Linked DNA regions of Homo sapiens. The protein of the gene in region 3 interacts with the protein of the main gene of each other region in a pairwise test. Each region holds a gene or a part of one and is shown on either strand. Other genes may lie near its edges.

What was found.
Region 1: the proteins of SREK1IP1 (region 3) and HSD17B14 interact in binary tests that used the Homo sapiens proteins (3 or more experiments, as listed by UniProt).
Region 2: the proteins of SREK1IP1 (region 3) and FGF10 interact in binary tests that used the Homo sapiens proteins (3 or more experiments, as listed by UniProt).
Region 4: the proteins of SREK1IP1 (region 3) and LYAR interact in binary tests that used the Homo sapiens proteins (3 or more experiments, as listed by UniProt).

Annotation. Positions count from the first base shown.
Region 1 is NC_000019.10:48,825,882-48,833,909, forward strand, and holds part of HSD17B14 (L-fucose dehydrogenase), read right to left. Parts: intron 6,852-8,028; coding exon 6,785-6,851; intron 5,879-6,784; coding exon 5,787-5,878; intron 1-5,786. UniProt on the Homo sapiens protein: Catalyzes the NAD(+)-dependent oxidation of L-fucose, yielding L-fucono-1,5-lactone, which rapidly converts spontaneously to L-fucone-1,4-lactone. Can also act on D-arabinose and L-galactose, with lower catalytic efficiency. Does not use NADPH.
Region 2 is NC_000005.10:44,386,421-44,393,990, forward strand, and holds the start of FGF10 (fibroblast growth factor 10 precursor), read right to left. Parts: upstream 3,001-7,570; 5' UTR 2,263-3,000; coding exon 1,938-2,262; intron 1-1,937. UniProt on the Homo sapiens protein: Plays an important role in the regulation of embryonic development, cell proliferation and cell differentiation. Required for normal branching morphogenesis. May play a role in wound healing.
Region 3 is NC_000005.10:64,723,301-64,731,328, forward strand, and holds part of SREK1IP1 (protein SREK1IP1), read right to left. Parts: intron 4,880-8,028; coding exon 4,807-4,879; intron 1,274-4,806; coding exon 1,084-1,273; 3' UTR 1-1,083. UniProt on the Homo sapiens protein: Possible splicing regulator involved in the control of cellular survival.
Region 4 is NC_000004.12:4,272,616-4,280,643, forward strand, and holds part of LYAR (cell growth-regulating nucleolar protein), read right to left. Parts: intron 7,135-8,028; coding exon 7,027-7,134; intron 6,916-7,026; coding exon 6,832-6,915; intron 2,155-6,831; coding exon 1,752-2,154; intron 1,055-1,751; coding exon 968-1,054; intron 1-967. UniProt on the Homo sapiens protein: Plays a role in the maintenance of the appropriate processing of 47S/45S pre-rRNA to 32S/30S pre-rRNAs and their subsequent processing to produce 18S and 28S rRNAs. Also acts at the level of transcription regulation.

The DNA.
Region 1 (8,028 bases), on a different chromosome or scaffold from region 3:
GCGATCTCGGCTCACTGCAAGCTCCGCCTCCTGGGTTCACGCCATTCTCCCACCTCAGCCTCCCGAGTAGCTGGGACTACAGGCACCCGCCACCGCGCACAGCTATTTTTTTGTATTTTTAGTAGAGATGGGGTTTCACCGTGTTAGCCAGGATGGTCTCGATCTCCTGACCTCGGGATCCGCCCGCCTCAGCCTCCCAAAGTGCTGGGATTACAGGCGTGAGCCACCGTGCCCAGCCCAACTTGACCAACTTTCTAAGAGAAACAAGAAATGTGGTGGTTTATGTGAAATCTGCCTTGTGAAATGTTGGCAATGAATGAAAAAAGATAGGCCGGACATGGTGGCTTACGCCTGTAATCCGAGCACTTTGGGTGGCCGAGGCAGGCAGACCGCTATAGCTCAGGAGTTTGAGACCTGCCTGAACAACATAGTGAGACCCCCAACTCTACAAAAAATACAAAAATCAGCTGGGCGTAGTGGTGGGCACCTGTAGTCTCAGGTCCTCGGGAGGCTGAGGCAGGAGAATTTATTGAGCCCAGGTAGTCAAGGTTGTGGTGAGCCGAGATCCTGCCACTGCACTCCAGCCTGGGTGATGGAGCAAGATTGTCTCAAAAAAAAAAAAAAAAAAAGTAAAAGAAAAGAAGAAAATATATATATATATACACACACACACACACACACACACACACACACATATATTAACTCTTCATGGGCTGAGGTGTAGGTGTGTTTTATGTGTGGAGGTGTTTTTAGTGTTGGGTTAATCCTAGAAAGTCAACACAAATTTGGAACAGGAGCCAGGGTTCACTGGTTAAGCAGGGGATTGCCCAACCTCCCGGGAACATTTCACCTGGATCTTGGATGCGACCTCAGAGTCAGCACCTGAAGCTCCCTGGACACTGGGCCCGCCCCCAGGCCTCTCCCCTCTTTGCCTACTCTTGCTCCCCTGAGTTCCTCCAGCCTCAAACTGGTCAGCTGCAAGCTGGTATCTCCAGAGCCCCACCTCCACGATCTCATGCCCAATGCCCATTCCCACCAGGACGTCCACCAGGCAGTTCATGTTCAACAGCGCCCCCGCCAGGCTTTCCTGCCACAGTGAATGGCAGCTCTGTCCGGTCAGTTGCTCAGTTGCTGGAGGTGGGGAGAACAAACCTAAAACCCCACTTTTTTTTTTTTTTTGAGATGGAGTCTCGCTCTGTCGCCCAGGCTGGAGTGCAGTGGTGTGATCTCAGCTCACCTCAACCTCTGCCTCCTGGGTTCATGAGATTGTCCTGCCTCAGCCTCATAAGAAGCTGGGATTACAGGCGCCCACCACCACGCCTGGCTAATTTTTGTATTTTTAGTAGAGACGGAGTTTCACCATGTTGGCCAGGCTGGTCTCGAACTCCTGACCTCATGATCTGCCCGCCTTAGCCTCCCAAAGTGCTGGGATTACAAAGACATGAGCCACCGTGCCTGGCAAGGACAGGGATTTTCTTCTGTTGTGTGTTCATAGCTGTATGCGCAGGGCTCCGCATGTTGCTGGTGCTATATAACTATTTGTTGAGTTAATTAATTAAAAAGTGCTATGCGGAGAATAAAGATGTTATGGAGAGTGGATGTTTGTGTGCAGCTGTTGCATAAGCAAGGGTGAGGGAAAGGCTTTGATGTGTGTTCTTCTCCTTCGTTTTTTTTTAGATAGAGTCTTGCTCTGTTGCCCAGGCTGGAGTGCAGTGGTGCAATCTCAGCTCACTGCAACCTCCATCTCCCAGGTTCCAGCAATTCTCCTGCCTCAGCCTCACGAGGAATTGGGATTACAGGTGCTCACCACCATGCCCAGCTAATTTTTTGTGTATTTTTAGTAGAGACGGGGTCTCACCATATTGGACAGGCTGGTCTTGAACTCCTGATGAGTGATCCACCCGCCTTGGCATCCCAAAGTGCTGGGATTACAGGTGTGAGCCACCGTGACCAACCCTTCTCCTTCCTTTTTTTTTTCTTTTTTTTTTTTTGAGACGGAGTCTCGCTCTATTGCCCAGGCTGGAGTGCAGTGATGCAATCTCGGCTCACTGCAACCTCCGCCTCCCGGGTTCACGCCATTCTCCTGCCTCAGCCTCCCAAGTAGCTGGGACTACAGGAGCCCGCCACCGCGCCCAGCTAATTTTTTGTATTTTTAGTAGAGACGGGGTTTCACCGCGTTAGCCAAGATGGTCTCGATCTCCTGACCTCGTGATCCGCCGGCCTCGGCCTCCCAAAGTGCTGGGATTACAGGCATGAGGTGCCGCGCCCGGCCAAAGGCTCAACTTTTTAAAGAAAAAAGGACGAATCAAGAGAGGCGGTGATTACAAAAGTTGTTCATCAGGAATTGTCATTGGTTTACAGACATCACATTGATTAGTGATTGGCTATACATGTTTGAACTATAGAGTGTGTGACACTCTAGAGCTACTTGGTATCAGGTCGTCTAGAGTCCAGAAACCAAGTAGCCTCAAAAGGTAATTATTGGATGGGTGCAGTAGCTCATGCCTGTAATCCCAGCTTGAGGCAAGGAGTTCGAGACCAGCCTGAGCAGCATAGAAAGACCCTGTCTCTACAAAAAAGTTAAAAATTAGTCAGTCATAGTGGTGCACCCCTGTGGTCCCAGCTGCTCAGGAGGCTGATACAAGAGGATCACTTGAGCCCAGGGGTTCGAGGCTGCTGTGAGCTATGATGGTACTCCAGCCTGGGCAACAGAGTGAGTCCCTGTCTCAAAAAGTAATTAAAATACATTTTTATAAAGTCCCTCTGAGCCAGGTGCGGTGGCTCACACCTGTAATCCCAGGAGTTTGAAAGGCTGAGGCAGGAGAATCACTTGAGCCCAAGAGTTTGAGACCAGCCTGGACAACATAGTGAAACCCCACCTCTATTAAAAAATAAAAAGGCCAGGCACAGTGGCTCATGCCTGTAATCCCAGCACTTTGGGAGGCTGAGGTGGGTGGATCACGGGGTCAGGAGTTCAAGACCAGCCTGGCCAACATGGTGAAACCTCGTCTCTACTAAAAATACAAAAAAATTAGCCAGGCGTGGTGGTGAGTGCCTATAATCCCAGCCACTAGGGAGGCTGAGGCAGAGAATTGCTTAAACCTGGGAGGCAGAGGTTGCAGTGAGCCGAGATTGTGCCACTGTACTCCAGCCTGGGTGACAGAGTAAGACTCTGTCTCAAAAAATAAATTAATTAATTTTTAAAAAAGTTGTTAAAAAGCCCCTCTGGGCCTGATCCTGATCATCTAAAGGGGCTCTCCTTTCTCAGATAAAAAAGTTTGTTTTCTTTCTCATTCCCTCCCCAGCTCTCCCCCAATTCTTGTTTAAGACAAGGACTCGCTCTGTTGCCCAGGCTGGAGTGCAGTGGCACAATCACGGCTCACTGCAGCCTCCAGCTCCCAGGTTGAAGTGATCCTCTCACCTCAGCCTCCCGTGTAGCTGGGATTACAGGAGCACCACCATACTCAGCTAATTTTTTTTTTTTTTCTGAGAAAGAGTTTCACTCTGTCACCCAGGCTGGAGTGTAGTGGCACAATCTCAGCTCACTGCAACCTCCACCTCCCAGGTTCAAGCAATTCTACCGCCTCAGCCTCTTGAGTAGCTGGGATTACAGGCACCTGCCACCACGCACAGCTAATTTTTGTATTTTTAGTAGAGATGGGGTTTCACCATGTTGGACTCCTGACCTCAAGTGATCTGTCCGCCTTGGCCTCCCAAAGTGCCAGGATTACAGGCATGAGCTACCAGGCCTGGCTTTTTTTTTTTTTTTTTTTTTTGTGAGACGGAGTTTCCGCTCTTATTGCCCAGGCTGGAGTGCAATGGCACGATCTCAGCTCACTGCAACCTCTGCCTCCCAGGTTCAAGTGATTCTCCTGCCTCAGCCTCCTGAGTAGCTGGGATTATAGGCATGTGCCACCACACCCGGCTAATTTTGTATTTTTAATAGAGATGGGGTTTCTCCATGTTGGTCAGGCTGGTCTCAAACTCCCGACCTCAGGTGATCCGCCTGCCTCGGCCTCCCAAAGTGCTGGGATTACAGGCGTAAGCCACCATGCCTGGACTCCATGCTCTTTTTAAAAATTAATTAATGAATTATTTTTTTTTTGAGACAAGGTCTCACTCTGTCACCTAGGCTGGAGTGCAGTTGCACGATCTCAGCTCACTGCAACCTCCGCCTCCTGGGCTCAAGCTGTGATACCCTAACCTTGTTTTAACCTGAATTGACTCTCCCTTAGGTGAGCGAGCCAGACAGACTCCATCCTGGCTCCTTCACTTGCAGCCCCTTAACCCAACCCCCCTTTCTTCAAGGACTTAACTTGTGCAAGCTGACTCCCAGCACATCAAAGAATGCAATTACTGATAAGATACTGTGGCAAGTTATATCCGCAGTTCCCAGGCAGTCGCCCGATTAATAGTACCCTAAGCCCCCGCGTTTCTGTCTGGTTGATAGCGCCCAACGTCCAGCGTCTATCACCTTGGGATGTGTTTAAAGCCCCTGCACCTGGAACTGTCTGCTTTCCTGTAACCATTTATCTTTCTAACTTTTTTTGCCTGCTTTACTTCTGTAAGATTGTTTTAACTAGACTCCCCCCTCCCCTTTCTAAACCAAAGTATAAAAGAAAATCTAGCCCCTTCTTCGGGGCCGAGAGAATTTTGAGCGCTAGCCGTCTCTGGGCTGCCGGCTAATAAAGGACTCCTGATCTTGTCTCAGAGTGTGGCGTTTCTCTATAACTCGCTCGGTTACAACAAAGCAATCCTCCCGCCTCAGCCTCCCAAGTACCTGAGGCGCACCACCATGCTCAGGTAATTTCCGTATTTTTTGTAGAGACGAGGGTTTCACTATGTTGCCCAGGCTAGTCTCGAATTCCTGGGCTTAAGGGATCCTCTTGCCTCGGCCTCCCAAAGTGCTGGGATTACAGCTGTGAGCTACTGGACCTGGCCTATTTATTTATTTATTTATTTATTTATTTATTTTTGAGACAGCATCTTGCAATGTTGCCCAGGCTGTATGCAGTGGTGTGTACATAGCTCATGGCAGCCTTGACTTCCTGGGCTCAAACGATCCTCCCACCTCAGCCACCTGAGTAGCTGGGACTACAAGGGCACCACTACGCCTAATTTTTTAAACTTTTTGTAGAGATGGGGGGTTTCGCTGTATTGCCCCAGCTGTCTTGAACTCCTGACCTCAAGTGAACCTCCCACAAGGACCTCCCAAAGCACTGGGATTAAAGGTGTGAGCCACTGTGTCTGGCCCCAATATGTTCTTAACATCCCCTCCTACCACCACCAGTCTGGAAGGTTCTAGAAGGTTCCTAAGACTGGGCTATGTAGCTACAAAGGTAGATTTGCTGGATGTAGAGATTCGCAGTCATTTATCTTCCTTTTGGAATAAGGAGATTAAACTAAATAACAGAAAATAGATGGCCAGGCGTGGTGACTCAAGTCTGTAATCCCAGCACTTTGGAAGGCCAAGGCAGGCAGATCACTTGCAGTCAGAAGCATAGCTACCAAAAATTATGAAATTTAGCTGGTTTTGTGGCCCGCACCTGTAATCCCAGTTACTCAGGAGGCTGAGGCACGAGAATCGCTTGAACCCAGGAGGTGGAGGTTGCAGTGAGCTGAGATCACACCACTGTCCTCCAGCCTGGGCGACAGAGAGAGACCCTGTCTCCAACAAACAAACAAATAAAAAGAACGGAAAACATTTTGCTCTTAGACAAAATGCATCACACAATCCACCTATCAGGAGGCTGCTCGGGCCTGGCGGCAGGGTCGCCAGCCCTCACCTTGGTCAAGGTGTACGTCCCCAGTAGGTTCAGCTCCAGCAGCTGGCGGAATCCCTGGGCAGAGGTCTCCTCAGGCCTCTGTGGGGGTGGGTCTAAAGTGGGGGGTGAGAGAGAGAGGAAAAGTGACGGGGGCTGGACACAGTTGCCCACGCCTGTAATCCCAGCACTTTGGGAGGCTGAGGCAGGCGGATCATGAGGTCAGGAGTTCAAGACCAACCTGGCTGACAGGGCAAAACCCTGTCTCTACGAAAAATACAAAAATTAGCTGGGTGTGGTGGCGGGTGCCTATATTCCCAGCTACTCAGGAGGCTGAGGCAGGAGAATTGCTTGAACCTGGGAGGTGCAGGTTGCAGTGAGCCTAGATCGAGCCACTGCACTCCAGCCTGGGCGACAGAGTGAGACCCCATCTCAGAAAAAAAAAAAAAAAAAAAGCCGGGTGCAGTGGCTCATGCCTGTAATCCCAGCATTTGGGGAGGCCGAGGTGGGCAGATCATCTGAGGTCAGGAGTTCAAGACCAGCCTGGCTAACATGATGAACCCCATCTCTACTAAAAATATAAAAATTAGCCTGGCGTGCTGGTGGGCGCCTGTAATCCCAGCTACTTGGGAGGCTGAGGCAGGAGAATCGCTTGAACCCAAGAGGCAGAGGTTGCAGTGAGCTGAGATCACACCACTGCACTCCAGCCTGGACGACAGAGTGCGACTCCATCTGAAAAAAAAAGAAAAGAAAGAAGAGAAGAGAAGAAAAAAGAAAAGAAAAGAAGAGAGACATGGCCAAGTGAGGGCACAGCCCTGGGGACACACAGGAGGGATGGAACAGGGCCACAGTTTCAGCACAGGCCTGGGGGGCTTCCATTGCTTTACTCTCCTGTCCAAGTGGCTAGAAAGAGGTATGAGGCAGGATGAGGGAATCAGGGGCAGGGAGTGGGGAAACTGACGTGCAGGAAACAGAGTTGGGGGGCAGGAGGTGGAGAATGGCCCTGGGGTCTCACAACTCACGGTGGCCAGCGTTGTTGACAACACAATCCAGGCGGCCAAATCGGCGGATGGTCTCAGAAACCAGGGTCTGAGGAGAAAGGAAATGTCCTTTGTTTTTTTTTTTTGGAGACGGTGTCTCCCTCTTGTCACTCAGGCTGGAGTGCATTGGCACGATCTTGGCTCACTGCAACTTCAGCCTCCTGCGTTCAAGCAACTCTCCTACCTCAGCCTCCCAAGTAGCTGGGATTACAGGCGACTGCCACCACGCCCGGCTAATTTTTGTACTTTTTAGTAGAGACAGGGATTCACTAGGTTAGCCAGGCTGGTCTCAAACTCCTGAGCTCAAGTGATCCACCCGCCTCAGCCTCCCAAAGTGCTGGAATTACAGGTACCACGCCCAGCCCAGGAAATGTCCTTTGAATGAGCAGTAGATGGGGTGTCCAGCCATAAAGAAGACAGGGCTCCCAAATGCAAGGCAGGAGGGGGAAGCTGAACTCCCAGGTCAGGGGACAAGAGCTAGAGGAAGAGGGGACTCCGAGATCAGCAGACACAGCAGGCAAGCAGGAGACAGGAAGGAGACAGGGGGCTGGTCAGAGCCACACTGCAGTCGTCACACCCAGGGTCAGGGGGTGGGGCAGGGGGGTGACAAGGATTCAGAGAGCGCGTAGGGGACAGTTGCCCAAGGGGGGCAGATAACAGAGAGATACTGATTAAAAGGAAGAAATAGGAACCCAGAAATAATGGAGAAAAAATCAGTTACATACAGGCCACGTGCAGTGGCTCACACCTGTAATCCCAACACTTTGGGAGGCTGAGGTGGGCGGATCACCTGAGGTCAGGAGTTCGAGACCAGCCTGGCCAACATGGTGAAACCCTGTCTCTACTAAAACTACAAAAATTAGCCAGACACGGTGGCTCATGCTTGTAATCCCAGCACTTTGGGAGGCTGAGGCGGGCGGATCATCTGAGGTTGGGAGTTCGAGACCAGCCTGACCAACATGGAGAAACACCGTCTCTACTAAAAATACAAAATTAGCCAGGTGTGGTGGCACATGCCTGAAATCTCAGCTACTCGGGAGGCTGAGAGAGGAGAATCACTTGAAGCTGGGAGGCAGAGGTTGCGGTGAGCCGAGATCACACCATTGCACTCCAGCCTGGGCAACAGGAGCGAAACTCTGTCTTAAAAAAAAAAAAAATTAGCCGGGCATGGTGGCGCACACCTGTAATCCCAGCTACTCGGGAGGCTGAGATAGGAGAATGGCTTG
Region 2 (7,570 bases), about 20 Mb from region 3:
TCCATCAGAATTTTTTGTTGTTGTTGTTAATTCCCAGCTCACTCTGTCCAGCCCAATGTTTGGATAGCTTCTTCCCCATCCTGCTAACTGAATGACACCACAACTATTTTATTTTAGAAGTAAATAAAGTTTTTAAATTTTTAATCGAAAAACCTTAAAGGTTATATACATAGGATCTAATGAATTCGGGTAACAAATGATTTTTAAGCAAAAATAATTGTCATCATTATGACATTATTTCAGCTACTTTCTTTGAATCAGATAATGTGGTACTTAATATCTTTAGTATGAAACATAAAATGAAACACTTTAAAAGCACCTCTACACGTATTTTTATTACTTATAAACATATTGTGAATTTTAGTAAATAGAACCAGTGGCTGAGGAGAAACAGAAGTTAATGTTGAATGTGTGTGCATCCCCACAGAAGAAAACTAAATTCTTAATTCTTGTAAATTTGTATTCAAAAATAAAATGCTAAATTCTGGTCAACTGTCATTCCCATTAGTACCTGGTACTTTCTAAACCAAGGAATCTTGAAATGTTTGACTGACGTATTTAAGTTAACTGACAAGACAATCTATGCTTAGAATTCCTGAACAACTAACACAAAAATGTCCCCTTTAAAGGTGACTTGGAATTTACCATTGAGATAATGCCAAATGGTCACTAAAGATGTTTAAACATCATTGTCTACTGTCTTCAGTGTGCCATTACAGAGCCTTGGGTTCCTTTCACATAACAATCAATAGTGGATGAATAAGTCTCACCACTTGAAAGTATCTGAGAAAGGAAGTCAACAGAGTAATCTGGGTTTGCTGGGTTGATTCAAGAAGAGACACAATATCCACCCCTCTTCTTCTAGTTCTCTTCCCCCAACCAGCCCACACCCCTGCAAGAAAGAAAGAAGGGAAAGAGAGAAAGAAGGAAAGAGAGAGGGAAAAGGCAAGACCAAAATGTAGGGATCCCAGGCATAATTTACGCTGAGGAGAAAATGTCACACTGTGGGATAAAATATAGCCATGGAAACAGACTTATGACTTTTACTTTGAAAATAAAAGAATGACAATGAAATTTGTGTGAGGTCTGTGTGAATCCAGTCCCAGATGTTTACAATGCTGTAGTAGTATGGCTCTGCAATATGAGAGGTTTCAGAAGAAACAGTACAACAGGACACCACAAAGCAGTGCATACGCTATTGACAATGCAGACATGAGCATCATGTTACCAAGAGGGAAGGCAGGCAGAAGACAAATAGCAGCGGTGGTGCCTGAAAAGCTAACTTCATGGACTGCAATCACTCAAACTAACATAAGGGACCCAAAACAAAACAAAACAAAACAAAAATCAAAACCAGAAAAATGCTTTTCGCTCATATCTAGAGGTAGTGGGGTAAAGGGATGGGGGTGGGGAGAGAGTGGAATTGACTTTTCTTTCTTAAATAAAGTTCCCACAAAGCCCCTATAATTGACAGCGGATAATTATTTTCAGCTTGAGGAGCCTGTCCCAAAACTCTTAACAAGATTGCCAGGGAAAAGAAACAAAATGTGTTTACTTGAGCCATTTCCAGAAGGAAGGAAAAATTGCTCTTTGGATGAGGTGGGAAAGGCGGTGGAGAGAGAAAGGGGCATCTTTGCACTGCAACAACTCTCTTGAGCGCCCTGCGTGGTCCGGCTAGTGACAGGCTGGAGGGAAGGGGTGGGTAGAGCGGCAAGGGGTGGGGGATGTGAAGGGAGCGCGCTTAGGGGAGGGGATGCGGCAGCACAATGTATACACGGGGGTTGGGGGGTGAATTAGTGTGAAAGTATTCCACTTAATCATTTTACAGGGGTTGGGGACGTAAATATTTAGCTGGCCACATCTGGAACAGATTTTTCCCCCCCGTGTGGGCTGGGGGTGGATAATTGGAAGGAGGGGAGCATGCATTTGTTACTTACTGTACGGGCAGTTCTCCTTCTTGGTCCCGCTGACCTTCCCGTTCTTCTCAATCTTGAGAAAGTACTTGGTGAAAGAGAATAGCTTTCTCCAGCGGACATCTCCTTGAAGGTGATTGTAGCTCCGCACATGCCTTCCCGCGCTGGAAGGAGAGGAGAAGGAGGAGGAAGAAGAGTTGGTGGCCTCTGGTGACACCATGTCCTGACCAAGGGCTTGGCAGGTGACAGGGACGGAAGACACCAAGAACAGCAACAAAAAGCAGCAGCAGCAGCAGCCGGGCAGGTGGGGAAAGGCTGAGGCACAATGTGTCAGTATCCATTTCCACATTGTACTGAAACTCTCGGCACTGGAAATTGTCTCATCAGAAGGAACATACTGGAAGGGTAAGACCCGATGCAAGGCAAGGAGAGAGCTCGAGGTGGTGGCTGCTGGTTAGCTCCCTCTGGGCGCGGATCTGGCCAGAAGTGAATGCACCAACATCCATAACTCCTCGGAAAAGCCGGCTGACTCCCCTCGCTCCTTTCTCGGATCCGCTGCCTACGCCTCTGGAGCCTCCCGGTAAATGGTGGACGTGGGTGGCCGCAGCAGCAGGAGCTGGTGGTGGCGTTGGTGGTGTTGGTCACCAGCGCTCTTCGCTCCCCCAGGAGTTACTTTGTTCTCTTCTTTACTCCTTTCTTCACCATGTTAGATGCCAAAAAGGTCTGAAAAACAGATGACAGCACGGTGAACAAAACCCAAGGGAGGTGGGGTGGGGAATAGGGGGAGATATCTGCACCCCTCTGCGGTTGGCACCTTCTGGTCTCTCTCTGCGGAGCCCCAGCCTGCGAGCCACTTCTACAAGTATATCCCTTTGGAGTTGTCAGAAGTGGAGGCAGCTGCCCAGTCGCCGTTGTTTTCTTCCCTCTCTTCCTTTCTGTTTTTAGTGGTGCCTGCCGATTTGAAGGCTGCCGAAAGTCACTTTTTGTTTTGGGGGACGGCGGCTGGTGTTTTGTATGGCCCTATCTCCCACCCCCTTCCTTTGGAAAGTCCGCTTGTAAACAGGTTGAAGCCTGGAGTCTAAATGTCAGTGATTCTAAGCCAGAGGTGGGCTCTGCCTCTGCTGGTCAAACCTCATTTGCAGGGGTGGAGAAGAGGGGGGAGGGGGTCAACCGGCGGTGGGACATCTGAAACCCTAGGCTGCTGGGAACGCCAGGGAGAGGGAGGGTGAAAGGGGCAGAGAAGGGGGTGGGGGAGCAGGGGAGCGAGGAGAGAGCGCGATGCCTTTGCACCGAGCTCGGGGGCTGCCAGGTCCCTTCCTCGCCGCGGCTGTTGCGGCCGCAGCCTCCGCCGGCGCCTCTAGCTCTGTCTAATTCGCTGCTAAAGCGTCCTATGCTTGCAGCGCGGGCCACGGCGCTGACGGTATCTTCCCGCTTTCCGAATTTTGCTGTCTTCCAGCCTGAACCAATCCCTTCTGGGGAGCCCCTTTCTCACTTGCTTTCCAGCGTAGGATCTCCTCCCCCCACCCCCATTTCTTTTGGCAGTGAAGTACTTGAGAGCCACCTGGAGCCTGGTGCTTGGCTGACTTTTCCTCCCTTCTCACTCCCAGAAGAGGAGAGGGCTGGGAGAAAGCAGAAGATGCTGAGGATTTTAAACCGTCCAAAGCAGCAGGTTATAAACTGGTCAGAACGAGCACAGAAAAGGAAGACATAATTAGTGTCCTTTCCTCCTCTGCTGCCAGCTTCCAAGGAGGTCTCCTCTTTAATGAATCACTGATTTCTCGCTTCCGTTGCTGAAGTAAAAAGTTCACACTTTGGCCCTCTCTGCCTTTTAAGCTCAGGGAGATTTATCGTCACCCTTAAAAGTTGCCTCTCTCGGCGCAAATGAAATCAGGGACCCAAATAACCGATTTCTAATTGCTAACATGAGCCCTTCACTGAATCATGCGTGCACTTCAAAGCAAACGCACTTTATGGCGATCGCAAAGATTTTACCATATAATTTGGCTGAATAGCCTGCTGTCTGTTTTCTTTTTTATGCAATTTCCTTTGCACTTTGTCATAAAGGGGAGGTTTTTTTTTTTTCTATCTTCACATTTAATGTTTAAAGGGCTCTGTTTTACAATATCACTGCACTACTAGTCCTCCTCTCCTTTTCACACTCTTTCAGGCCACCCCAACTCCTCCCTTGCTCGCAGAAACTAGCTCACAGCCCAGGTATTGACAGAACTAAGTCCAAGGCTAAGAAACCTTTGCCAAGAGTTAAGAGGCACAAAAAAGGAAATACTGTGATAATCCATTCCAATCTGAATAAGAAACAGCTCCTAGAGGACCACTTCTTTAAGAATGACTCTAAACTAGGGAACGTTTAACTAGAAGGAATGCCTAAACATGTACTGGAATGAACTATCTATGTCACATAGGACAGTTAGACATTTGTGTTTTGTTGAAGCCCACAAAATTGCCAACATTTTAAGGTTTTGTACCTACAAAAGTGGTAATTTCATATGTTTCAACCTAAAATTAGGCTGCCAATGTAAGACAGAGAAACACTTCAAGGTGAACTGGGAGTTTAACAACAGCAACTGTAATTTGGAGGGAACTAATTAGAAGAGTCTGTGTTCACACAAGCTAGGATCCCTATGATGTGCGTTTGACCTCCATATTGGTTGTGAACCAGAGGAAATGCAAAGAAAAAAGAATTAGCGTTAGAGATGAGCATTAGGAATGATTGCTCAATTAAGTATTTAGTGACTTGAAAAATGAGTTTACATGAATGTTCTTATATTTTTCTGTGTATTCAAATCCTTTGAAATAGAATCATTTAATACTAGAATCAGGATTTTAATTGCATTAGTTATAACTCATGCAGTGCTTATTTAGAAGAGTTCAACAATGTGGTGAACATTACAATAGGTTTTTAAAGTTTAATATAATTAGCTCTAATTTCTGTAGATATTAATTGGAAAGTTAAGCAAATAAAGAGCACACATCAAGCGAGTCTTTTTCTTTAGGATACTGAAAAATGAACCAACAGTGCGAATTTCAATGTTTTAGTTCACAGTTTTATACCTGAGAGGACAAATGCCTGAAAGACAGTGTAGTGTTTCCCATGGATTTGGGTTTCAGCCCAATGGTCCAGAAGAATCCAAATGTTTGATTTTACAACTAATTAAAACTACATTTTTTAAAAATTATGTTTGATGAAACCATACAATAAAGATTCTGCTGTGAAAAGTTACAAAACACAGGAAGTTATTATTTTGGGGTTTCTGTACAATAGGAACCAACACTATTGATGCCACTTTGGGGTTTAAGAATTTTTGTTAAACTCACCCTAGACATGTGCCCCTCCAATCCAAAGCTAGTCTCTCTTTCTCCCTCTCTCTCTCATACACACATCTACCAACTTTATGTTCCAGTAGAAGAAGCCATTCAGATCTTTTAGCTAGGAGTTTCTTTGTTTTTTCTGTCTAAAATGAGGGAAAAGATGTCTTTAAACTTTCATATTAAAATCTGGTTGCAGCAGGTGCAGTGTTTGAAAGTTCTAGAGCCCCTTCGCTGCTCTTCTGTACAGCGTGATGACAAGAGGGCATTTACAAAACAGCCCAAAGGAAAAGCTGACATAGCTTTTTAGATTATATCTCATTCTTCTTTTTCTTTTCTGTGCAGCCTTTCTTTTACAGCACAGTTGAATCCCTAAATACCCGACTACTTTGCATTGTTAGGTCACCTCTTAGGTTAGCCCGAGAAAGCCTGAGAAAAGTTCCACAGGAAAGATGCACTATTTAACGGAATTCAATCTCTCCCAATAGATTTGAATCACTAACATAAATGTATGAATGTAGATTATATCTCTGTAATGAGGCCTGAATCATTCTCAGTTACTTCAAAGGACTGAAATTCTACCTTCCTTTTTTAGCTGCAATAATCAGGTCTTAATGGGTTCCTTTATTAATTGTTTCTTTGCTAGGATTGAAAAGGACAGTACAAGCTTCAGATTAGAGTGGTACCTACTAATTCTCAAAGGCTGTTTTTCTCTTTTATCCAACTTCTGGAAGGCATACTTTATTTCTATGCCCTTAAACATATCTGCTACTATCAGGCTAGCTCTGTATTGAGAGAAATAGATGCAGCCTTTTGTTACGTGTGATGTCTTGAGAAATGATTGAGGCTTTTTAAAACAAGACCATGGCAGCAGCCATTGAAGAATCCTAAAACCTGGCTCTTGAACCTCAGAGAAGCAATCAGTGTATGTACTAGCAGATCCTTCAGTAGCTATTGTGTTTGAGCAGTTTACATTTTACATATGTATTGCCTGGATTCTTTATGTTGCTCAGCACTACCTATGGTTCAGTTACAAGATGTGTGCCCTATTATGTATGATGTTATTGGCAGCGTCAGTAAGCTGCTTCAAGTAATGCTAAGTAAGGTCAAAAGTCAGCCACGCTGTTCAAAAATTTAGACATATGCAGGCCTCATTTTTTCACCCTGTGGTGCAGACCTTATGAGTATGTGTCACAGCCCATTTTTCCCTTTTGGACACAGAACATGCCAGTTTTAAGTCATCATTAGGACTTGTGCACTTCCCAGGCTGCAGCTAGAAATGATGCTAATAATCACTCACATTTGGGTGAATGAAGGAGTGATATCTTATTGTTTTTAAACCAGGAGCTTCAAGTGAACAGAAAAGAGGTGTTATCCCACAGATAGTGGTGTGCATTGCTTCAGAGCCAGTGGGAATCTTAGCTATAACTGAATCCAACACATGTATTTTATAGATGAATAAGCTGATTCCCAGGTCACTCCATGGTAGACCAGAATTTGGAACTCCTGTGATAGACCTTAGGCTATTACCCTAATTTTTGCAACACCTGTCCTGTTTATATTCTTTTTCTTCCTCCCTACTCCCTTTCTTACCATTGACCATTCATCATTCTAATATGTCTAAGATGGCAGAGTAGAAATGATAAAAAGAGTTAGGGGTTTAGTTATGGAAAAGCAATTATATCTTTGCTGCAATAGATTAACCAGAGAAAAGTAATAAAATAGTGTTGAATTATTAAGTACCAGCTGGGTTAGCTAAAATAAATATTGATATATACTTGGCAAAGGGGGATATTTTATCAATGCTTCCGAGATGAGCACAATCAAAAAGTAATGAATACCCCATATTTTCAGAATACCCCAATTTTTTAATAGAATCTGAATTTATAAGTTCACCTCTAGAAAACTGATGAGACTTTCTAGAAAAGTAGATTTATAATTTGATCCGGGTTTCTGCGTTCTAATATTAATTTTCCATAAAGTATTGTGATATTTCAAAGCATAGGTTGCTTAAACAAGTTTTTTTCAAAGTTTGAAACTAAGGTTAATTTTCTGTTCCCTCACTTTCAAACAGACTCAATGATCTGTTATTAGGAAGGAAATATGGCCAAGATGATAAAAAGGATCTTTTGTAACAAGAAAAGAATTCTATATAAGATTGTTTAAAACATACAATAAATCACCACAAATTCCTGGAAACTGAACTTTGCATCTTGGCACTAAACACAACAAACATATTTTCACAAAGCTGCTGTTTGTCCCCTCCCAGCTGATGGTAAACAGAACCTTCCCTTGACAAAGTTGTGAAGTCTCTGAAAAGTTTTGTTTGTTTT
Region 3 (8,028 bases):
TGACACTTTTTACTCTTGAGTTTGCCACTAAAGTAAAAGAGAGAAACATCCCAAACTGGTCATTTATGAAAACGTTAAGTTCAGTGTGAAACTTGCTTTAAAACTACAAATTATGTCAGACAAAATAAATATATATGCTCACATTTATAAAATTTTCCACAGTACTCATAGAAACAAGCTTCATAAAATTTATACTGAATACAATAAAAATCAGTTCTAATAAAGATTTAGCTATCTTCCTAAATAAAAATTTCTGTGTTTGAGGTATCACTGTAAGACATGCCAATATGGCACATTTGTAAAACAACCCAGGAGTCTATTCTAAAAATCACAACCAACTCAGCATCATCTCTGCAGACTTACTAACAGGCTGAACTAATCTCTTTATACAAGAAGTATTTTAATTATTACAAAAACAAAGGAGGCAGGTACTAGAAATTCTGCATTTCATAGAAGAGTAAAACTTTGTTAGAGATATTTTCATGATCATCTACCTGCAGACACCATTCATTTAAAAAGTCCTAGTCAAGACCATTAAGCAGCTGCATCTTCTACAACATTGAAAAAAAATCCCTAGAGATTTAAAAAACTGAAGAATTTCACTATCTTTAAAAGATATTATATTTTAGTACATAAAGCTATTAAATTTCTCTGTGTCAAGAGCAAAACATTACCCCTTACCTTGCTTCATCATTGGAAGGTGGACACCTGATCCAGCAATACTCATTAACTGCTAGGTAGATGACCCATGTTGATGGCAGTAAAGCCATTTTACAATGAACTTATGAAGTAGTAACACTAGCCAAACACACAGAGACACAAATACCAAAAATGATGTGTTTAGTATACACAAATAGCTATACTTGGGGCATGGCTATCAAGTAACAAGACTGATTTAATACTTTACAGTTACAGCACATTAAAAATATATTGCCAGAGGGATAATGGTCCCAAATACGAAAAATGTCTATATGGAAAAGGCTGTGATTTATTGCAAAGCATAATATATAGCAAATTCCAAGGAAGGGCAAACACGTTTTAAAAACAAATTTTTAAATTTAACGGCTTAAGCCAAAGTCTCAGTTACTTTCTGGAGAATTCAGAACTATTAGGTGTAGAAGAATGCTTTTCCTTTTTTCTCTTCTTTTTTTCCTTTTTGTGATGTTTCCCTTTTTTTGATTTACTCTTTTTTTCTTTTTTCTTTTCTTTCTTCTGATATTTTTGTTTCTTTTGTTTTGAAGTGTCCTCTTCAGTGGAACTGGATGAGTAAGACCTATGGATAATAATACATACTGACTGAGAATTGCATTTATGACTGATAGATAAATTTAAGTGGGATTTGAACTGCCTTAAATTCTTCTTGGAGTAAGGTAGGGAGTATAAACATAAACTTAAAAAATGCTTCATATATTTGCATTCCCTTAAAACGATGAATTTAGAATTTTTGCTGCTTGGTCACAGAAACCAACAAAACTAGTATCTATTCCACTCAATACTAATGTAATGAGTTTTAAAGTCAATAAGGATGAAATTATTTTTCTGTGATTTTTGGTTTTTCATGCAGTCATATCATTCAAAATCCTAAAAGGCAAACAAAGGGGCATTCACCAAGCCTTATTATATTCACTTGTGTATACAATAACTTCGCATATTTTCTTAAAAGTGTCTCAAAAGTTGCAATTCTCTATTTTAAAGGGCTATAATTGTACGTTCATATGAATGAATGAAAGCTGAAAGTTAGCAAAATAAAAGCACTTTTGGTAATTCTTCTGATTTTTCAAGTACTTGATCCCTCTAGACGGAGAGTGATACAGATGAATACTTGCATTACAAAATAATTTTCATTAGTTACAAAAGGATGCTTTTATGCTATATATAAATGAAAAAGGATGGGTTATCATTGTGCTTTTGAAAAATATTACTCTAATACTAAATTGAAAAAATTGGTTCAATTCCTTCCTCTAATATTCATAAAAAAAAGGAAAAGAAAAAGAAAAAAACAGAAAACCCTATCTTTTAAGATCTTACTTAAAGAGATGTGCAACATTCTACCTATACTCAAACTCAAAATATGAGTGACAAGACAGAAACTGAGTTAATTTAAAATGTAAACAAAGGTATCTAAAGAGTTAGTTTAGTGATCTAAATATTAGGAGTTAAAACTCAAACTAAGAAAATCTGAGACGGATATAAAGGAGGTGCCAATGTAAATTCAGGAGACTACAGGGCTCCAAGGCTATTTTGTGTCTGTATAGTGTGTGAATTCCTTGACTGCCTTCCTCCTTTAGTGACTCCGAGTTTTCCCTTATTTTTGTAATGTTGTGTTCCTTTTTCCTCCTTGTTTGTCTACTTACTTAGACTTCCAATCATCTGTTAAAGCTTATTTTCTCATGTATTCTCCTGCACCCTTGCCTCTTCAGTTGTTATTCTCAAATCTTGTCTATTTTCCTCTTTTAAAGACCCTGTTTGACTTGACCTCTGGATTCTGACTAAAGCTTCTTCCCTGCCTGCACTTTTTTCTTTAGCTTTTTGGTCCTGAAGTTTTTTTTTTTGTTTGTTTCTTTTTTTTTTTTTTTTTTCTGAGACAGAGTTTCACTCTTGTTGCCCAGGCTGGAGTGCAATGGCGTGATCTCGGCTCACTGCAACCTCCGCTCCCCCGAGTTCAAGCAATTCTCCTGCCTCAGCCTCCCAAGTAGCTGGGATTACAGGTACCCACCTGTAATCCACCAGCTAATTTTTTTTGTATTTTTAGTAGAGATGGGGTTTCACTGTGTTGGCCAGGCTGGTCTCAAACTCCAGACCTCAGGTGATCGACCCACCTTAGCCTCCCAAAGTGCTGGGATTATAGGAGTGAGCCACCGTGCCTGGCCTGAAGTCTCCTTTTTAAGGCAAAATTTCAGGCTGTGGCATAGCAACACTTTCAGGGGGCACTATCTCTGCTAAGTGTGCACAGAAAAGTTAATTTAATTTCAGGTTTGTGATGCTCAAGGTAAAGAGGCCCAAATAAATAATCTGTTACTATAAAAAATATTTGGGAGGCTGAGGCAGGCGGATCACAAGGTCAGGAGATTGAGACCATCCTGGCTAACACGGTGAAACCCTGTCTGTACTAAAAATACAAAAAAATTAGTCGGGCATGGTGGTGGGCACCTGTAGTCCCAGCTACTGGGGAGGCTGAGGCAGGAGAATGGAGTGAACCCGGGAGGCGGAGCTTGAAGTGAGCTGAGACTGTGCCACTGGACTCCAGCCTGGGCAACAGAGCGAGACTCTGTCTCAAAAAAAAAAAAAAAAAAGAAATATACAGATGTACTTCAACTTATGATGGAGTTACGCCTTGATAAATCTATCTGAAGCTGAAAATACACAAAATACAGCTAACCTACTGAACATCATAGCTTAACGTGGCTGCCCTTAAATATGCTCAGAACACTTACATTAGCCTCTAGTTGGGCAAAATCATCTAACACAAAGCCTATTTTATAATAAAGCATTGAATATCTCATGTAATTTATTGAATACTGTCCTGAAAGTGAAAAATAGAATGGTTGTATGGGTACTTGAAGTACATTTCTACTGCACCATCATAAAGTTGAAAGATCATATCAAACCACATAAATTGGGAACTATCTGTATTAGAATTTGGAAGACTATCAGATATCATTTCCTGTGAGCAATCCATCTTCCTGTGCTAGAATAAATGATTTAATAATACATTAACAGAAAACCCTGAGCTCTAAATTCCTATTTGTTTTTATATTAAAGATTATTAGTTAACTCCTAACGCTTGAAAGTGGGCTACTTTTCCAATTTATAAGATACCTGAAATATTAAAATACATGTATTAAATGCTCTATAAAAACTACAAAGTGGCAGCCCCTGGTTTCTACAACCTATTCTGTATGAGAACTGGGTCTAAACTAGAAATAATTATGGTTAAGTGCTTTTAAAAAATGCCTGTATGTGCAAATTTATGCTAGTATGAATGAAACTGCACGCATTAACAAGAGAAGTGGCCACTTACTACTTTCAATAACTTCTTTAACCAGTTAGTTTTTAAAAGAGTTAATAGTAAAAATGCACAGGTGGCCGAAGACTGGAAGGAAGTTGTGATGCTAAAAATTCCTTCAGGTCTTTCACAACCCTCATCAGCCACCATATATATATATATATATGAAACTGTCAGGCTAAATACATATAAATACAAAGGTGTGTGTATGTGCATATAATTACATATATATATATATATATATATATTTTTTTTTTTTTGGTGGGCGGGGGGCAGATAGGGTCTTGCTGTGTTGCCCAGGCTGGAGTACAGTGGTGTGATCATGTCTCCTGGGCTCAAGCAATCCTCTCACCTCAGCCTTCCACATAGCTGGGAACACAGGTACATGCCACCACACTTGGATAATTTTTCTTTTACTTTTTGCAGAGATGAGGTCTCCCTATGTTGCCCAAGCCTGTCTCAAACTTCTGGGCTCAAGCCATTCTCCTGCCTTGACCTCTCAAAGTGCTGGGATTATAGGCATGAGCCATCGCACCTGGACAGCATGACAAGTTCTATTAAATTCTATTAATAAGTTAATTTATTAGCCATGGTAATATTACAAGAATACAAATATTTTAGTCAATTTCATGTATATGAAGACAAAATATATATTAAGAGTTTAAACTTAAGCTCAATGAAAAGCTTAGTTGTTGAAGAAAAAATATTAAATTAACTATTATACACAAAAAATAAAATTTTATAATCCATCCTAAACTCATAGGCCTGCTTTGTTTTTTAAAATGTTGTTCAAAAAATACCTTTTCCTTTTTTTTTTCAATTTGATTTTTTCTTTGCTTTTTTCTTTCTTCTTTTCCTCTTCTTCATTTATTCCTGTGGGGGAGAGGTGAGAAGAAAAAAATCTGGTTAATATATGATTCTATATATTAATATGGCATGTATATATGTTAAAATTTTAGCTGTTGGTGAATTTCACTGGTTAGGATAATTTTTGTAATAATTTTCCCCTTTCTTAATTATCTTTATCCATTAAAAAACTCATAAAAGTATTAAATGTTTTTTATAAACATTTCAAATACTAAGTCCATCAAGTAAAAAAATGCAAGTACCCCACCTCTAATTCCCATAGGAAATCAAGGCCAGTGGTTTGATGGGTATTGTTTGGCCCTTAAAAAGCAGAACACTACAACAGTGCACAGTTTTAAAATTTTATTTTGCAACAAAATTAGGATCATGCAATATGTATTATTCTCTAACTTGTTTTTTAAATACACTATTTGGTGTGTATTCTTGTAGGCATTCTTTATATAAAACCAAATACACACACATTTACTCATACACACATAGTTGCATATAAGTTCCAAGTATTTTTTGCCTTTGAAAAATGTACTGTCACATATATTTTGCAGCTTTTTTTTCACTTAACATAGCAGATATTTATCTTTGTCATTAAATATATATCATTATTAAACACAGAAGTGTTCCCATTAACCATATTTTATCAATTTCTACTTTCATTGTTAGAAACAATAAGCAATGGAAATCTTTGTACATATAAGAAGTATTTCTGGGTGACAGAACTTGTGTATATTTAAAGAAAAAGCAGGCTGGGCGCGGTGGCTCATGCCTGTAATCCCAGCACTTTGGGAGGCGAGGCGGGTGGATCATGAGGTCAGAAATTCGAGACTAGGCTGGACAACATGGTGAAACCCCATTTCTACTAAAAATACAAAAAATTAGCCAGGCGTGGCGGCAGGAGCCTGTACTCCCAGCTACTCGGGAGGAAGCCTTGGGGTTATTTGGCAAGGTAAAGAATAGACATCAGTTTGTCTCATAAAATCCTAGGAGATTTTTATTGACCACGCTTTCATTTATTCAACAAATATTTACTAAATGCTTATGTGTCAAGTACTGTGCTATGTACTGGGTCTTTGCTGTGCATGATCCTTGCCCACAGGGAACTTATAGTTAAGTGGTGAGAAAGAAAATTAACAGGCAAAGATAGCATTCTAAGTGAACAGCAAGGGTAGTGCATGTCAGGAAGAGGAAATTAGTGCCAAAGCTCCAAGGCAAAAAGAGTTTGGTGCGTTCTAGAAACTAAGAAGAGGTTGTTGCGGATAGAAGGGGAGGGGCAACTATGAATAAGAATGAACATGAATGAGAACAGATGAACAATATCATAAATACATGTAGAATACCATGAAATGAGAGGCCAGAGAGGTAAGCAGGAACTTGCTTATTCAAGACCATGAAGGCAACAGTAAGGATTTTACATTCTAAGTGAGACGGACTGTGTGATCGGCAGACTTACAAGGTAAATGAATTGGAAAGGGCTAAGGGGAAAAGGCAGGGGAATAATAAAGTAACTGGAGTAGTGCAGGCCAGAGATGGTGTCCTGAGGTGATATGTGTGTGCGAAGGATGATGGAACGAAAGGAATCAAGGATGACCACCAGGTTTTTAGCAGTGCCACTGATTAAAATGTGGATTGGTGGGAAGTGGGTAGGAGCCTGAAGGACAATTGTGGGTGGGAAGTAAAGATTTCAATTTTAGACATTTGAGATCTAAAAGACCTGTTTGACATCCAAGTAGGTAACTGAAGTAGGTAGTTTGGTATGTGATTCTGAAGTTTAGAGATTAGTCTGGACACACACACTGATCAGCTTATAGATAGTATTTAAAACTATGGGGAATAAATAAAATCATTTAGTAAGAGAATGATGAGAAAAAAATACAGGGAGTAAAGCCCAGGAAGATTATCTGCATCTTGAGGAACTCCAACATTTACGGGCTGAGAAGAGCAAGAAGAAGAGCTGTCAAAAAGACTGACAAAGAAGGGCCACGGGGTTGGAAGAATACCAGAACCAAGAAGTAGGAATGTTGAAGAGAGGGGCTACCTATCAAATAGTACCTAAAGGCCAAGTAGAATGTGGATATAAAAACGCCAAATAAATTTGGCAAAAAGTATTTAAAGACCTTGACAAGTGGACTGAAAAACAAATGGAAATAAAAAGGTAGAGAAAGTAAGAATAAATAACTTTGATGAGAAGTTTAGCTAGAAAGCAGCAGAGAAATGGAATGTTAGCTACAGGGATGCAAAGGATCTAGGGAAGAACAATGGGAAAAACGAAAAAAAATTGATGCTGATTGAAATGATGACGCAGAGAGGGGATAACTGAAGGAATAAAATTCTTGAAGAAAAGAATTCATAGCAATTATGGTAGGACATGCCTTCGAAAGGAAGGACAGTCCTTCCATTTTAACTGAAGGAAAGAAAAGAAAGATGGATATATATATATGCAAATTTGTGGATTCAGTAATTGGAAGCTAAGATGCTCTCATTTGGTGTCTTCTATTTTGTCAATGAAAGAGGGAGTCATTAGCCGAAGGAGGAAGGGAGAAGTGGGAAAGGTATAAAATAAGTATGTGGAGTGAACTTGCAAAAATAAATGCAAGCTGAGATTAGGGATCATGAATTTATAGAAACACCAGTCTGCCTCTTCACCTTTGCACTGCTGTAAGGGGATCAGCATAGAGAAGGCAAAGAGGTTCATCCATATTTGGGGTTTTGCTAGATAAGGGTAAAAGATAAAGAAAGGAGTAAGGCAGTTACAGATATTTGCAAAAGAATAATGGTGATAACTATGATGGAATCTAAGCTAGATAAGGGGAAGACTAACTGAATGAAAGTGGTGGGTCAATAGCCTGAGGGTCTTTACATTAAATAAACTGGAAAGATAAGAACTTGGAGTAAAAAGCGTACAGTGTATGCCATTAATTTTGGAGGCTGAGAACAAGGTCCAGGGTGCAATCATGGAAATGTGTGGCTAAGGTGAAGAGACAGAAAAGATCATTTTCAATGATAAGGTGGAGAAGATGAGTTAGGGTGTTGTCAGGTCATTCACAGGTCATCTAAGAATGTCTCTAAGAACAATGAGAGGACTTGAGATGAAAAATAAGACAATTGAGAGTTTGAGGCTGGAGGATCGCATAAGACTCAGAGTTCGAAACCAGCCTGGTCAA
Region 4 (8,028 bases), on a different chromosome or scaffold from region 3:
TGTGGTGAAGAAGGCATACAGCAGGACAGCAAGAGATCTCGCCATGCTGCTCAGAACAGCATGCAATGGAAAACTTATCAATTGTTTATTTCTGGAATTTTCCATCCCACAGATATGGGGACACTACTGTTTACTAAGTTGAGAAGGGGGTTTTAAGCTTAGAGATCTAACCCAATGCTGGCAGTCACTGAACTCTGCTAATAAAGCTGCAGGCCCATTTGAGTCTTTGGACCTGTTCTGAACTGCAGGATCCTGGGGGTTGGGGGAGGTGGCAGAGAGATGACGACTTGCCACCTCCCGACAGGTATGAGTGCTTCAGGCCTGAAGAAGCAGGAGAGAAGCTTTGTGTAAGAGACAGCATTTCAGAGGGCCCGTGAAGGCCAGGGACTGGATTCTGAGGTTGAGGATACAAGCAAGGAGACCCCAGAAACAGGCCCAGAGATGGGCAGGGGCACAGTTCAGGGGACTTCTAAGAGAACAGTGAAAGGCAGGGGCAAGAGAGTTGGGGAGGAGCGAAAGGGAACCGGGTCTCAGAAAGCTATATTGGGCTTATTTAAATTTCAAAGATAACATACATTTCCAAACCAGACTGCTTTACTTTTCTCCTTAAAGACAGTGGGTGAGAGGCACTGTAAGACTGACTCACACACCCTAGAGAACTGATTTTACTTTCAAATTCTTATATATACCTCTGGAGGGTAAGACCCTACTAGAAGTGCCCACATTACACCTTCCTTCCCCAGAAGGGGGCATCTCTCGGCCCCTCTCCCAACCTACAAGGGACCGTGTATTTCTCTCTTTTCTTTTCTCTCTCTCTCGCTTTTTGAAAGTGGTACGCCCATGGCTCACTACAGCCTCACACTCCTGAGCTCAAGTGACCCTCCTGCCCCTGCCTCTGAAGTAGCTGGGACTATCAGCGAGAGCCGCTGTGCCCAGCCGTGCTCCTCAAATGACAGCAGTGATATACCTTTTGCAGGAGCCTCATCGTCTTCTGGTTCTCCGCCCTCAGGATGCTCTGGGAGCTTCATCTTTTTCTTCTTAGAATCTGTTTCAACTAAGTATTTGGAAAGATTTTTTTTAAAGAAGATTTTGCATTTACGCTAGCAGCTACCATTTAATGAGACCTTATGCGAGCTAGGCAAACTCCACGTATCATCTCATTTCTTCTCCAAGCTGCCCAGCCCCGGTTTATAAAACCCCAGGAGGGTTTTATCCTCCTCCATGCTGGAGATGGGATGAAAGGAGTTGAGAAGTGAGGTCATTTGCCTGGGCAGGGCCCACCTCTGCCTGGCCACAAAGCTTATGCTCGTTCCCTTACTTGGTTCAAAACATAAGGTCTAGCTAGGTGCGGTAGCTCATGCCTGTAACCCCAGCACTTTGGGAGGCCGAGGGGGGCGGATCACCAGAGGTCAGGAGTCCGAGACCAGCCAGGCTAACATGGCGAAACCCCATCTCTACTAAAAATACAAAAATTAGCTGGGTCTGGTGACACACGTCTGTAATCTCAGCTACTCAGGAGGCTGAGACAGAAGAATCGCTTGAACCTGGGAGGTGGAGGTTGCAGTGAGCTGAGATCGTGCCACTGCACTCCAGCCTGGGCAACAGAGCAAGACTCCGTCTCAAAAAAAACAAAAAAAAAAAAAACCACACACACACGCACACAAAACGCTAGGTCTAACAGGCTTAAATATCCCAAATTCACAGCTTTCCCGGTTTTCAGATGAATCCCAGAGCGTGAGCTAGCCACTTACCTTCCGAGTGCCTCCGCTTCCTCTTCCCTGCGCCCACGCGTGCCTCTTCCTCACTGGCGCTGTCCTTGCGCTGCTTCTTCTTCTTGCTCCTCTTCCCTGCAGAGCCATTGGCCTCAGGGACTTCCTCCCCACCAGCCTCAAGGTCAGCCTCCTGTCCCTTTTTGCGCTTCTTAGGCTTCTGATTCCTTGAGTTTTCCTGGTGGTTTTCTAACTTTAGTTCTTTCTTTTCTCTTTTCCTTTTCTTCTGCCGTTCTTCCTTTCTTTCTCTTTTATTCTTCTTCACCTCCCCTTGCTGTTCCACGGCGTCTTTCACTTTGGAGGCTGGAACCTTGGTGGAGATTTCTGCATGTGGATTTGCCACTGGGTGGAGTGGCCGTTGATCCTGTTCCTTATTGACTGGTTCCTTATCATTAAGCAAAAGCAAGAAACACATATTCATTTTAAATGTGTAAATAGAGTTGTCACGTTATTGCCTGGGCCTACTACATAAACTGTTCAAGAAAAACGGTTGGTTTAATCCCTTATCGTTTTATAACTGTGACCCCCACCAACAGCTAAAATGTAGCAGTAAATATACAAAATGGGAAACCACTTCCCCCAGTCCACACCCCTCTGTCTGCACAGAACAGACATTTTCATTCCACTGGAAAAGTGAAGAATCCTTATGTCGCTGAAGATAAGACCTTTCATTCCAGCTCACTATTCACCTTTTAGATAAGAGAAGAGTACTTAGGGGTGGTAGAAACCACTGGATGTTATGTGTCTGCAGACCTGGGTTCAAGCTCCAGTTCTATTAATTCCTAGTCAGGTGACTAAGGGCAAGTCATTTATCTTTTCCAAACCTATTTCCTCATCTGTAAAATGAAAGGTAGTAATACCTACCTCACACACGGACGGATGAAACGAGGAAAGATCCGTCATGTGCTTATTAGCATAACACATGCCCAATAAACCAGCCCATTGTGTGTGAAGAGTTTTGTAAATTATCAGCCTTAGAAAATGGTACTGTTATTATCATCATTATTCAGACTGGAAAGTTACCATTAGAAGAATGGTCACCATTCTCATCATTCTTTTTTTTTTTTTAATGGGGACAGGGGTCTTGCTTTGTTCTGTTGCACAGGCTGAAATGTAGTGGCACAATCTCAGCTCACTGCAACCTCCAGCTCCCAGACTCAGGCAACACGCCTGCCTCAGACTCCCAAGTAGCTGGGACCACAGGCGCAAGCTATCAAAACCGGAAAATTGTTTATTTTCTGTAGAGACGGGGTCACCATTCTTTACGTATGGAGGTGTCTCTCTAATGGTTACCCCTGTTAAATACATTACCTCATTTATGTATTTTTTTTGGGACAGAGTCTCACTGTCACCCAGGCTGGAGTGCAGTGGTGCAATCTCAGCTCACTGCAACCTCCACCTCCCAGATTCAAGTGATTCTCCTGTCTCAGCCTTCTGAGTAGCTGGGATTACAGGCATGCACCACCACACCTGGCTAATTTTTGTATTTTTAGTAGAGACAGGGTTTCACCATGTTGGCCAGGCTGATCTTGAACTCCCAACCTCAGGTGATCCGCCCGACCTGGCCTCCCAAAGTGGTGGGATTACAGGTGTGTGCCACAGCGCCAGGCCTTGCATTACCTTATTAAAATCAGCACATAGAGCCTACTTTAAACAGTGACATCAGCAAGTTCAGTCCCATTCCTTCCTGAACTCCCTCCCTGAGCCCCTTTCTCAAGAGATGACCTGGAGCAATTCATTGAACTGTTCCATGTTCCCTGATGCCTCTGGAGGGAAAGAGAGTGGCCAGTGGCTGCTTCCAGGTGTGAGAAACCACTGAGCTGATGCACCTGCAGGCGGGGGTTCAAATTCCGTCTCTGTTAGTCTAGCCAAAGGACAGGGTAAGTTACCTACAGTCTTCCTCCTTTGGGAGATTGTGGGTAGCAAGGACTATGTCCTCAAAACTGGACCAAATAAAAAAGGACAAGCTTTCACTAGAGTGCAAGGACTCAGGACTCAGACCTTAAGGCTCGATCCTTGGCTACAAGAGCAGCATTAGAAAATGGATACTGGGGAGGCTGAGGCAGGAGAATCACTTGAACCCGGAAGGTGGAGGTTGCAGTGAGCCAAGATCACGCCACTGCACTCCAGCCTGGGTGACAAGAATGAAACTCTGTCTCAAAAAAAAAAAAAAAGAAAACGGATACTGTAGGCCGGGTGCGGTGGCTCATGCTTGTAATCCCAGCACTTTGGGAGGCCGAGGTAGGGAGATCACCTGAGGTCAGGAGTTTGAGACCAGCCTGGCCAACATGGTGAAACCCTGTCTCTACTAAAAATACAACAATTAGCCAGGCGTGGTGGCAAGCGCCTGTAATCCTAGCTACTCGGGGGGCTGGGACAGGAGAATCACTTGAACCCAGGAGGCAGAGGTTGCTGTGAGCCAAGATCGTGCCACTGTACTCCAGCCTGGGTGACAGAGTGAGACTCCGTCTCAAAAGAAAAGAAAATGGATACTGATGTAACCACCTGGTTTTCTCAGTAGCAGTGGCTTAGCAGCATCAGGTTGTCAAGGCTCATGGGGTAAAGGGCAGAGGAGGATTTCAGAAATAGACTTAGGAAGAAGGGGACAAAGAAACTTCACATCTGTCCTACAATTCTGTCGATATCTTCTAGTAAAATATTATTATCATTATGATTTTTTGAGACTGAGTCTCGCTCTATCACCCAGGCTGGAGTGCAGTGGCACAATATCAGCTCACTGCAACCTCCGCCTCCCAGGTTCAAATGATTCTTGTGCCTCAACCTCCCGAGTAGCTGGGATTCTAGGCGCCTGCCACCACACCCAGCTAATTTTTGTATTTTTAGTAAAGACAGGGTTTCACCATGTTGGTCAGGCTGGTCTCAAACTCCTGACCTCAACTGATCTGCCTGCCTCAGCCTCCCAAAGTGCTGGGATTATAGGCATGAGCCACTGTGCCCGCCATAAAATATTATTTTAACCACTGAGAGCCTGAGACCCTGGCATCCCTTCTACACAATCCAGACCAGATTTTCAGCTGGTGCCTTGCCTCTTTGTCTAAACCAACTCCTCGGCCACAGGGAGAGAGGGAGGGAGGCACACATTTACCCATCTGGTAGCTGCTCAATAAATAGGTGAACCAATTCTTCCCCATCTTCTTTTTACCTCATTACACACTCTCCTCAAATGTGGTCTCCTCTGTGATGCCCTGACTCTTTCCTAATCGAGCACCTCCTTCAGTCCTGGCCTCCCAATGCCTCTGGCTTCTTCCCAGTGCTGATCAGGACCTGACATTACACCATGGACCCGCACGTGGTGCCTATCTCCCCCACTAGAACACAGCTCCAACCAGCCAGGACCTTGGCCTAATTACAGTTGCATCCACAGTGATCAGGTGAACTGTGATGGGGTAGAGGACAGAAAAGCATCCGACCTGACATCTGGCAGAGTTACAGGAGGATAAACAACCAAGGTACGGAGGACAAGGCCTCAGGACCCTCTGCTCTGCACTACAAACACAGGGTATGCTGGGAGGGCCGTGGTGCAAAGGCAGAGGTAAGGGATGACAAGCTGCGTTTCGCAGAGCTCAGGGTTTACCAGGGGCTGTTTACTCCTTATTTTATTTAATGTTTAATATGTTCACACTTCAAAAGGGAAACTGGAAAAAACTTTCTAAAACCCTGCAGTTGAAGCAATTTCAAATCTTTGATTCTTAGTTAAAACAGAAATAACCTTAAAAAATAGATGCCACATAAAGGCCAATCTAATGATCGGTTATACGGTTTCAAAGGGCCAATTTGTACCTTCTGAAAGAGACAAACGCTAGGTGTACTACCGAGATAAATTTTCATCTTGATGCCCACTTGTTGCCGAAAGTATTCTCTCTACATAAGTGAATCAACTCCCGATAATTTGATAAGAATGAAAGACCAGTGGGGTTCTGACCCCACTGTTTTTTGAAACTGATATTTACACAAAAATAAACAATGTAATCAACAATGTGGCTGAAAGATAGCAAACCAAGATTTTCTACATATATAGTCCACATTTAGGGTCTCTATTCAACCATTTTGACTAACAGGTGGCTGATTTAATTACTTGAAGGGAATTCTCCTTCTACCAGAAGGAAGGCGCTTCAAGCACACTGCTCATCTACCTTAACCGTAACCTTCAGAGGCTGCTGTGACCCCCTCACCCCTTATCCAGAGGAACACCTAGTCACTACGTCCTCACCCTGTTTTATTTTCCCTCATGCACCACCACCTGGGATACTTTAGATTTTTTTGTTCAGGTCCTGGCACAGATCAGACACTCAGTTAAGTATTAAATAAATGAATGAATATTACTATCCACATTTTTTTTAGATAAGGAAACTGAGGCTCAGAGGCTAAATAATGTGCCTAAGATCAAACGTCAGGCAAACTGCACAGCAGGGATTTGAACCAGGTCTGTCAGAAATCCAAAGCTCCTGTTCTTTCTTTCCCATGTATCTATCTCCCTGCCTGATTACTAAGCAAATCATTACATACTGGGCTGGCACCAGCATCAAACATTGGGATGAAACATCTTGCTCTTCACAATAAGGAAGTCTCTGCAGTGCATTCAGTTTCTTCCTTTCCATAAATGAAGGCACTAAGAGGTTCTCTAAAAAAGAAGGCTGGGCCAGGTGCGGAGGCTCATGCCTGTAATTCCAGCACTTTGGGAGGCCAACGCAGGCAGGTCACCTGAGGTCAGGAATTCGAGACCAGCCTGCTTAACATGGTGAAACTCTGTCTCTGCTAAAAAAAAAAAATACAAAAAATTAGCTGGGCATGATGGCTCGTGCCTACAGTCCCAGCTACTTGGGAGGCTGAGACACGAGAATTGCTTGAACCCAGAGGCAGAAGTTGCAGTGAGCCACGATCGCACCACTGCACTGCAGCCTGGGCAACAGAGTAAGACTCCATCTCAAAAAAATAAAAATAAAAAAGAAGGCTGCCTTGACTTCCAAAAATAAGAAATTCCCATTTCATTATTACTAATTATTTTTGCCACAATGCAAATCTAAAATCAGATCTGACTTACGCTGTTGGAAGCTTCAGAAAAGATATTCCACACCTGGTCCAGAATGGATTCATTATGAACTTTTAAACTGTTCTTCATCCAATTCTGTAAGAAAGAAAAAGAAAAAGAACTATTGATCCCACTTGGACAGGTACACACAAGCTCAGTCACTGATGGGCCACACGGCCCCCTCCATTCAAGAAAGTCAATTCATACCTGAAATTTTGCCTTTTTCCTGGGAACGTTGTCAAAAGCACTAATTTGCTCTAAAAGTTCTCTCACTTTGGGGCTGACATTGGGTCTCTTTATTAATTCACTAATTTTCTACAAAAAGGGAAGAAAAAAGAAAAACTATTAATAAACAACCAACATGAGTTTCATGAAAGCCAATTGAAAAAGTCCTTGCCATGGCTAAAGCGTTCACGTTTTAAGCCCAGATTCTGTATTTATGTCTATGCTTAAAAATATATAGGTTAACTTCTATTAACATAGTACTGGAGTCCTAGCCAGAGCAGTTAGGCAAGAAAACAAAATAAAAGGCATCCTAACTGCAAAGGATGAAGTAAAATTATCTCTGTTCACAGATGATGTGGTCTTATATGTCAAAAGTCCTAAAGAGTCCACACAAAAATTGTTAGAATAAACAAATCCAGCAAAGTTGCAGGATACAAAATCCACATTCAAAAATCAAGTTGCATTTTATATAACAACCAGAAAGAGAAATTAAGAAAACAATTCCATTTGCAACAGCATCAAAAAGAATAATCAGGAATAAACTTAACTGAAGAGGCAAAAGACTTGTTTACTGAAAACCAAAAAACACTGCTGAAAGAAATTAAAGTAGACACAAATAAATGAAAAACATTCCGTACTCATGGACTGGGAGACTTAAAGTTGTTAAGATGTTAATACTACCCAAGCAATCTACAGATTCAATACAATTCCTATCAAAATCCAATGTGTGTGTATATATACGTTTTTACAGAAACAGAAAAATCCATCCTAAAACTCACAGGGAATCTCAAAAGATACCAAATAGCCAAAACAATCTTGAAAAGAACAACAAAAATGCAGATCTCATATTTTCTGATTTCAAAACTTATTACAAAGCTGTAATAAGTTTCTGTAGTTTGCTGACCCCTGCTTCAGAGGATTTCATCGAGTGTGACAGCAGCAGAGACGGAACTCACAGACCCATGCACCTCAACCTTAGGGTCT